Linked DNA regions of Homo sapiens: region 1 is reported to be linked to region 2. Evidence: microRNA targets listed by miRTarBase, many of them from high-throughput screens and not tested one by one. Region 2 holds a microRNA gene; the other region holds the end of a gene's coding sequence.
Evidence for each region. The annotated mature microRNA hsa-miR-3942-3p reads UUUCAGAUAACAGUAUUACAU and lies in region 2 at 1,772-1,792, opposite strand. An mRNA with a match to its seed (bases 2 to 7 or 8) in the 3' UTR can be bound and repressed. Matches are read on the target gene's strand: a 7mer-m8 pairs with bases 2 to 8, a 7mer-A1 pairs with bases 2 to 7 and ends in A, and an 8mer does both.

Region 1: the mRNA of SCARB2 is a reported target of hsa-miR-3942-3p. Seed matches in the 3' UTR shown: 7mer-A1 at 3,060-3,066 and 7mer-A1 at 941-947.

What each region holds. Positions count from the first base shown.
Region 1 is chr4:76,158,442-76,162,498 of GRCh38, forward strand. It overlaps SCARB2 (scavenger receptor class B member 2), which reads right to left. Exons shown (of 12, transcript NM_005506.4): 12 at 296-3,310. The coding sequence ends at 3,272. LOC124900718 (a long non-coding RNA gene) reads left to right here. Exons shown (of 2, transcript XR_007058144.1): 2 at 1-326. Among named protein-coding and RNA genes, the nearest start is that of NUP54, 12 kb to the left of the region's middle.
Region 2 is chr15:35,370,509-35,374,577 of GRCh38, forward strand. It overlaps MIR3942 (microRNA 3942), which reads right to left and starts at 1,856; the gene lies at 1,748-1,856. It overlaps DPH6 (diphthamine biosynthesis 6), which reads right to left. Exons shown (of 9, transcript NM_080650.4): 8 at 3,013-3,100; 9 at 372-1,695. The coding sequence ends at 1,642.

The sequences.
Region 1 (4,057 bases), not on the chromosome of region 2:
CATCTATCAGCTGACTGACTCCTGCCCCATTTAGTTGAGGGTTGCCTTGGGTTATTAACTCCCTGATACTCCTATGGTGCTTTGAGGGCTCTTGAGAAAGACTTAAGACAGAAAAGCAGAATGTGGGACTGCTTGGAGTGAAACTTGTCAGGCTGATTGTAACTGTCCACTACAGCGAAGCTGAAATCAGACATGGCCCAAGTGTGTGACTCAGGGCTGCATCTGTCAAGGAACATCTTTCCAGGGAAACTCCATAAACAACAGGACATCCAATGACATATGACTTCTAGAGCAATTTTATATAAAGTGGTTTTTTATTAATGAAACATTTCATTGCATTAAGGGTAGAAATAAACATGTCAAGAACCGCATGAAGTGAACCAACTGTATAAGCTACATGAAGAGCATTCTGGTCAGTATTCTTGTTAACAGGCACAAGCAATTTAGTGATAATGTCCAGAGGGCCAAGGATGCGGACCACCTTTTGCAGAACTCATATCTCGAGCAGTTTAAATTAAAAATTAGCCTCCCTTAAGTTAAAAACCCCAATAGGGGTTAGTCGTGTAGTGCTTGTTCCACTTGACCATTAGTGATCTTTCTAGAACATGAGGAAATCAAGTCTGGTTAGAAAAGCCTGGAGCTAAAAGTGGCAAAGCCCATTTCCTGTCCTGTGCTCAACTCCTAATTTTCCCTGAGAGAAGTGAGTTAAGCTCTCTGTCTTGGTTTCTTCCTCTCTAAGTTGAGGATCATGGTACCAGAAGCTTGCATTCTGTGATCATGACAGTGCTTACAATCACAAAGCCTTTGGGGGTCTTTCTAAGATAACTGCCGCAAGAAAATGAGCATGAGAAATAATTCATCTTCAACTTAAAGCCAAATAGGTGCATTCATTCCTCTTAATCTATAATTTTGACTGTAGTTTGTAGATCTGTCTCAGACTTTTCAGAAGGATAGTATCAAATGTGATTTAAACCAAGTAACTATTAAGAATCATAAAACAGGCCAGGCCCGGTGGCTTACGCCTGTAATCCCAGCACTTTGGGAGGCTGAGGTGGGCAGATCGCAGGGTCAGGAGATTGAGACCATCCTGGCCAACATGGTGAAACCCCGTCTCCACTAAAAATACAAAATTTAGCTGGGCGTGGTGGCACGCACCTGTAGTCCCAGCTACTTGGGTGGCTGAGGCAGGAGAATTGCTTGAACCCGGGAGGCAGAGGTTGCAGTGAGCCGAGATCATGCCACTGTACTCCAGCCTGGCGACAGAGTGAGACTCTCTCAAAAAAAAAAGAATCATGACACAAGTATGGAAGTAATGTTTTTGGTCTCCCTGCCAGTGTGCAACTCAGTCTAAATGTGTATATCATTAACTGTTATCATTTACAGTATTTAAAATATCCTCCTCACAGATGATTATATCCTGATAATAGGACTAAACCAATAAGTATGCACTAGCATTGTCAATTTTATTAGTATGGATAAGTACATGCATAATTAAGACATGCCCAATTATCTAGTTAAATGTTGATAAATTCTAAAAATGTAGATATTTAGCATTATTGAAGACCAAATATTTTTGTTAGTTTTTTTACATTTTGGTGAGTTGGAGTATCTAAAGGTTCTATCTTGATTCTATAGAAAATTTGAGAGTTTAATGAATTGCCTCTTCAAGAGGGGAAATATATCACATATTGTTTTAGTGTAGAAAAAGGAAAAATTGTCAGTAAAACAATTTATTACCTCAATACAGGGATAAGAAGCTATGGAAATGAAATCTATATTTTTTTCTTCATTTGCTTACATTGAAATCCAGTTTTAAACAAAAAAAATCCTTTTGAATGGTTCAGTTGTTAAGAAATTCTATAAGCACTTTGTCAGCTAAATGTATAGGCTTCTCAATTCAAAATGAATGCTGAACTTTGAGAATCAAAGAAAATGCCCTTAAATATGCTTGAATTCTGAACACTGTGACATATGATGGCTCCCAATTCCCTGTCTTAGGTTATGCTGAAACCAAGAAGTCCTTTGAAAAGTGGTGTCTCTGCTTCTGGTCCTAACAGACCTTTCTTTAAAGTACTTTGTGCAATATTTTAAACATCCATCATTCTGTCAGCAAAATGATTGTCACAGGAAGTATAGGGCACACGTTTCTCTATTCAGTGAGTGACAGTGAGCTACAAAACACTGGAAAGAACTGAAACTGAGGAAGGAACTTGTAAAAAGAACTTCAAAATTACCAAGAAGGCGGCTGTCCCAGAAGAAATATCTCTTTAGTCTAATCAGACTTTCTGAAACTTATGTGTAACTTAGGCTGTAGATAGATGGATTTCCCATATTCATAATTTTACAAATAATCACTCAATATTAGATTAATTAATACAGTAACATATTTGGCAAGGGCGACTCAGGAAGAAAAATCAGTTACTCATTACATTCTCTCAGAAGCATCTTTTCGTAGCATGATCATTTTGACTAAAAAAAAAACAGTTAACTATCCACAAGCATCATAACTAGCAATTAATTCTACATGAAATATCTGTACTTTATCCTCACCAACATTATTTATGCATTCTCTTCGTTCACAAAAGTACAAGTTAAAAATCCTTAGGAGCTTATCACTATCAACTCATGGGTATTGCCCCACCCAACCCCTTTCCCATTTGATTCTACCCAGTATTTTATTGCAGTTGGAAGACTGAGTTTTCCTGGAAGAATTATGAACTGAAGATCAGCATAAAATGTAATATGTTTTAGAAATCAGATGCATTTGAATGATATATTGGATGAAGCTACCATTTTACCCTGGGTCCCGAACTCTTATTTACTTCTGTTTTGCAAGTGAAATGGAGGAATACAACATAAAATGGTATATACGCATTTTGAGCACAAAGTTCGGTGAATGAAGCATACTGAATGAAGTTAGACCAGTAGCATTAACAAGTGATGCAGAGACATTTTACCCACAATAGTGGTCACAAAATTCTGGAGCTACCAGCACCCAACAACAACAAAATTACTATACAAGGGTTTATTAAATACTTGCTAGACACATAAAAGAACAATTTCAGAGCCCACATGATTTTATAAAGCTTAATGGCCAGCCATGTCAGCCTGCTCTTTAACCTCTGGCCAGAATGTTCCTATCACTTGCCAGCGCCGTGTCTTTTTCCTTCTTTCAACAGGCAACAAGCCTGCAAGGAGGTGGAGGGTTTCCCCACGTCATCGTCCAGGTCAGGACAGCTCACACAGTTTCTTCACCAAGCAAAGGCAATGTTTAGGTTCGAATGAGGGGTGCTCTTTCATCCGCTGTTCCCTGAAACACAGAAGAGAGAAAACAAGTTAGATGTTCATGTCAGAAACTTCTCCCCAGTGTGAAAAGTTTGGGTGGGGAGTGGGGGCATGGAAGGAGGAGAGACCTATAGGAAGGTGGCTCATCTCACTCACCTCCCCTCTTGGGCTGCTGCTTGTTCTTGAAGATTCAGCAGGCCTAACCTTTCCAGGAGGCCTTCTCTGACCACTCCCACCCTCAATACCAGAGCAGTACCCTTCTCTGTGTTGATCTGGATTATAAAACTTAGACTCTATTCAACTTGCCTCCTTCCTGGTTTGAAACCTACTAAGGAGTAGTGTCTCAGAGGTATTAGTTCTCAATAATTCCTTGCTTGTTGAATATATGAGGAAGGTTAATTGTAGGAGCAGTAATTAACATTTCCATGAGGTTTCATTTGTGCTTAAGACAATTTCAATGACTGCATAAAGTCACACTGGAAGATCCACACATAGAAATGGCAAAATAGTTTGCCTCACAGCTAATTCAGGCTAAAGTGACTGGCAGGGGATAAGAGAAATAATGGAAGAATATGGAAGTCAGGGAAATTCAGCTAATTTTACTCAGATGGTTTCACGTATTTATTTTCTACTTCACATTTGCCTTGGACACTTAGTTGAGGAAACTGGAGGAAAAAAGGCCACTGTTGTAAAAAAAAGGAAGCTGCAGAAAATTTAAGAAGGGCTTCTACAGAAAAGGCTCATTGCAGGTATTCAGGTTCCTGGCTGGGCT
Region 2 (4,069 bases):
ATTAAAAATAGTCAAAAGATCTGAAGAGACATCTCACCAAAGGAGATACACAGATGGCAAACAAACATGAAAAGATGTTCAACATCACATATCTTTAGGTAGTTGCAAACTAAAACAACAATGAGAGAACACTTCAGACCTACCAGAATGGCAAAAGTCCAAAATTCCTACAATGCTCAATGCTGGTCAGGAGGTGGAACAACAGAAACTCTCATTCATTGTTGGTGGGAATACAAAATAGTACAACTACTTTGGAAAACAGTGTGGCAGTTTTTTTTACAAAGCTAAACATAATCTTACCATATGATCCAGTAATTGTGCTCCTTGGTATTTATACACCTGAAAAAAACTTATCTTCACACAAAAACCTGTTCATGGATGTTTATAGTCGCTTTATTCATAATCGCCAAAACATGGAAGCAACTGAGATGTTCTTCAATAGGTGCATGGACAAATGAAATGTGGTAGAACCAGACAATAAAATTTTATTCTACACTAAAAAAAAAATGAGCTACATATACATGACAAGATACAGAGAAACCTAAATGCATATTAATACATGAAAGAAGCCAATCTGAAAAGCTATATACTGCATGAAAAGCTATATACTGTATGATTTCAACTACATTACATTCTGGTAAAAGCAAAACTATGTACACAGTGAAAAGATCAGTTGCTAAGGGTTAAAGGAGAGGGAGGGATGAATAAGTAAAACACAGAGGATTTTTTAAGGCAGTGAAATTATTCTGTATAATACTATAACGGTTGACAAATGTCATTACACATTTGTCAAAACCCATATTATGTACAACACCAAGAGTGAACCCTCACGTAAACTATGGACTTTGGGTGATAATAATGTGTCAATGTAGGTTCATCAGTTGTAACAAATGTACCACTCTATTATAAGACATTGACGGTAGGGGAGGCTGTGAATGTGTGGAGGTAGAGGGTATATGGGAAATCTCTGCATTTTCTGCTCCATTTTTGCTGTGAACCTAAAACTGTTCTAAAACATAAAGTCTATTTTTTGTAAAAGTTTTCTAAGGTCAACATAGTTAATACTGAAAAACAGCATTTTAAAAATCAGTTATAAAATAACTTGTAAGAGTTAAGGACATTCTTCCTAATTGTCCAATAACGTTGAAACACTTCAACCATGAATATATTTAAAATAAAAATGATAAATCGCTTTGGCGACACCCAGTAGAATAAGCTTGACTGGCTAAATAAAGTGACCATCTTTTCATCTTCATTTTCAAATGCCTCTGCATCATGACATTATTGGTAGGGATTGGAGCAAGAAAGAGAGAAGGAGGAAAAGAAACTAGTGTGATAAAAAAAGAAATGCTACAGAAATGGGGTTTATAGATGAAATAAAAGAAAAAAAAGGTCATAGGGAAGATGTGTTAACGAAAGAGAAAGAGTGAATTCCAAGAAAGTTGGCACTATTAATGAACATGCCGTCGACATTTTCCCAATTAATAAATGGTTCCACTAACCTCTTCTAGTGAAAGTATGTTTCTCTAAAAAAATAAGAGTCATGAGAAAAAAATAAACTAGTCATAGTAACTGAGAAAATACTATGCAATTTTTTTGTATAGAAATGGTGGTTTAATGAACAATGTTCCAAAACACTTTTCAAAAATTATATATATAATTAGATGTTCTGTAGTTGTCAGGCACTGAGGACACCTAAAAAAAAAAGGGAAGGAAAGGGAAGGAAAATGCACCATATTTATTCAGTGTCAGTGAATATGACACTTCAAAGATGTAATACTGTTATCTGAAATACTGTTATCTTCGCAGCCTATTTCAGGTAACAGTATTGCTTCTTTGAGGTGTCATACTGAAGACCAATCAAATACCAAAACAACGAGGTGAACAGTGAGCTATTCGGGTAGAGCTGAACATAGAATGGCTGGAATGCCTACACATGAATTCAGTGCTTTTGACTTTGTGTGTGCGTACATGGTAGCAAAAGTAGCAGAAAACTACAAGTTAGGGGTTCAAGTAAATCTGAAAAACATTTGGATAGTGTAACTTAATTCTTGTGGGGGTTACCAGCTTTTTGATAAAAGGTCACCAATAGTCATCATCCAGCCCAATTCCACAACCTATTTTTAATCCTGCCCATTGTCATTCTTCTGGAGAACTGGCACCTATAATTATCCTCACCTGTAGAAACCCTCTCATCTTGAGATTTTTGGCATTACCACTCTTTTCCTACTTTTGCCGAATTCTTGTTAATCCTCTTACTCCTTCAGATTTCCTATGATGTAAAATATGTAACTGTGGGTGTGCCTCAAGACTTGGGGGAAAGAACACTAAATATACAGAAGACATTTTCTAATCCTTTTCTGTCACTACACTCATTTCTTCACATAATTTCAGCTATCATTTTTATGGTAACTAATATAAAGCAACATCTGAAGGATGAGACCTCTCAATCAAGGAATCTAATCCAGAACTTTATTCCACAAGATATCTTTAAATTAAAATTTTACTGTATCTTGACAGTGTATTTAAAATAAAACTCTTTATTGTAATTTTGCTTCACTTTCCATCTTCCATTTTTACTTCTCTTTTCCTGGATATTTTTGTAAAGGTTTTATTTCTCCTTTTCCTCTCTTAAGCTTTGAATAATGACAATCCAATTTATCCTCAAACCCTTCCCTTAATGCTTATGTACAGTAACTTAAATGTGATCCTGCTAGATGATTTAATATTTGATTTTATATTGTCCTCCCATTGTTTAATGTATATACTATTCCCTTTTTAACTGACCTGCAAACTTTTCATAAATGTAGTATCTTTTGTATCATATATAACTCAAAACTATAAGCATTTGTAAAATTCTTAGTTATTGACTGAGGAGCTGAAAAAAAACCACTAATGATAAAAATCAATTTTCTTTTTCCTGTCATCTGTTGTTACAGAATTATATATGCAAAGCCAATGTATATATCTCAAATTTCTATTGAAATCACTGTGAATCTTAGATTTACTTGCCTTGTCCTCCAAGTGCAATTCTAAAAAGCGTAGATAAGCCACAGGTGCAAATGCATCAGCTGAATGTATGACTACTTCTGATGAATCCCTGAAATACAAAAATTTTACAATACATTTATATGCTACAAAAATTGTGACAAATCATTCCTCCTACTGACTAGAAGAGACTAAACATTCTTGTTTTATATTTATCTCCATTGGTATACAACATGTAGTGATTAATAAATATTTTTAATAACCCAGTATTTAATTGGGAAAAGGTTCAAGTATACTAAGCTTTTAAGAAAAAACAATGAGGCTTTCTATCTTCATAAGAACATAAGAGTTCAACTTTCAGGTTCACTCAAAGCTCTCTGAACAATTTTAAGACTTAAATTCCTGTTCAATTTCATTTTCACGTATTTGCTTGGTATAGGCTAAGCATTAAACATTAGTGCTTTATCTTCATTATTCTTTTCATTTTCAAGAGGTAATTCATTCAATGTTTCACACAAAATCTCAATTATCCTTCACAAAAGCAGTACTGGTGATGATTTTAAGCTCTAGATGAACTCTTCACACTGCAGTATCATTGCTATTAAAATTGATTGTCTGACATAGTAATGACCACATTCAGGTAAAATGGTATGAACTGCATGCTGGCACCATATGGATACATGTAAATTAACTCAACTTTTATCAAAGATACCCTGTAAAGCACATTTGAATAACTAAGATTATGTGTAAAGTTCTAATAATGAATTATTTTTTATTGTTTATTAAGAGAGTAATAATGTTTTGAATTTCAACTGAAAATTTAAAAATAGAAATTCCTCATATCACTTTAGTGCCTTGGGAAGTACTTCTATTGTTTATATTAATAGTTAGCATTTTGACCATTGTAGTACAGTAAAATAAATCCTGACATTGACATTTTGTCGCTAATGTAAAAATATTTTTGAATCGACTTGTATCATGCAAAGTTACTCGGTGGCAATAGAAGAAATCTCAAAATATTTGGCTCCAAATTATTAAACTTTCATAAGCAAAATGTTTACTTCCCACTTGAAAGATCAAG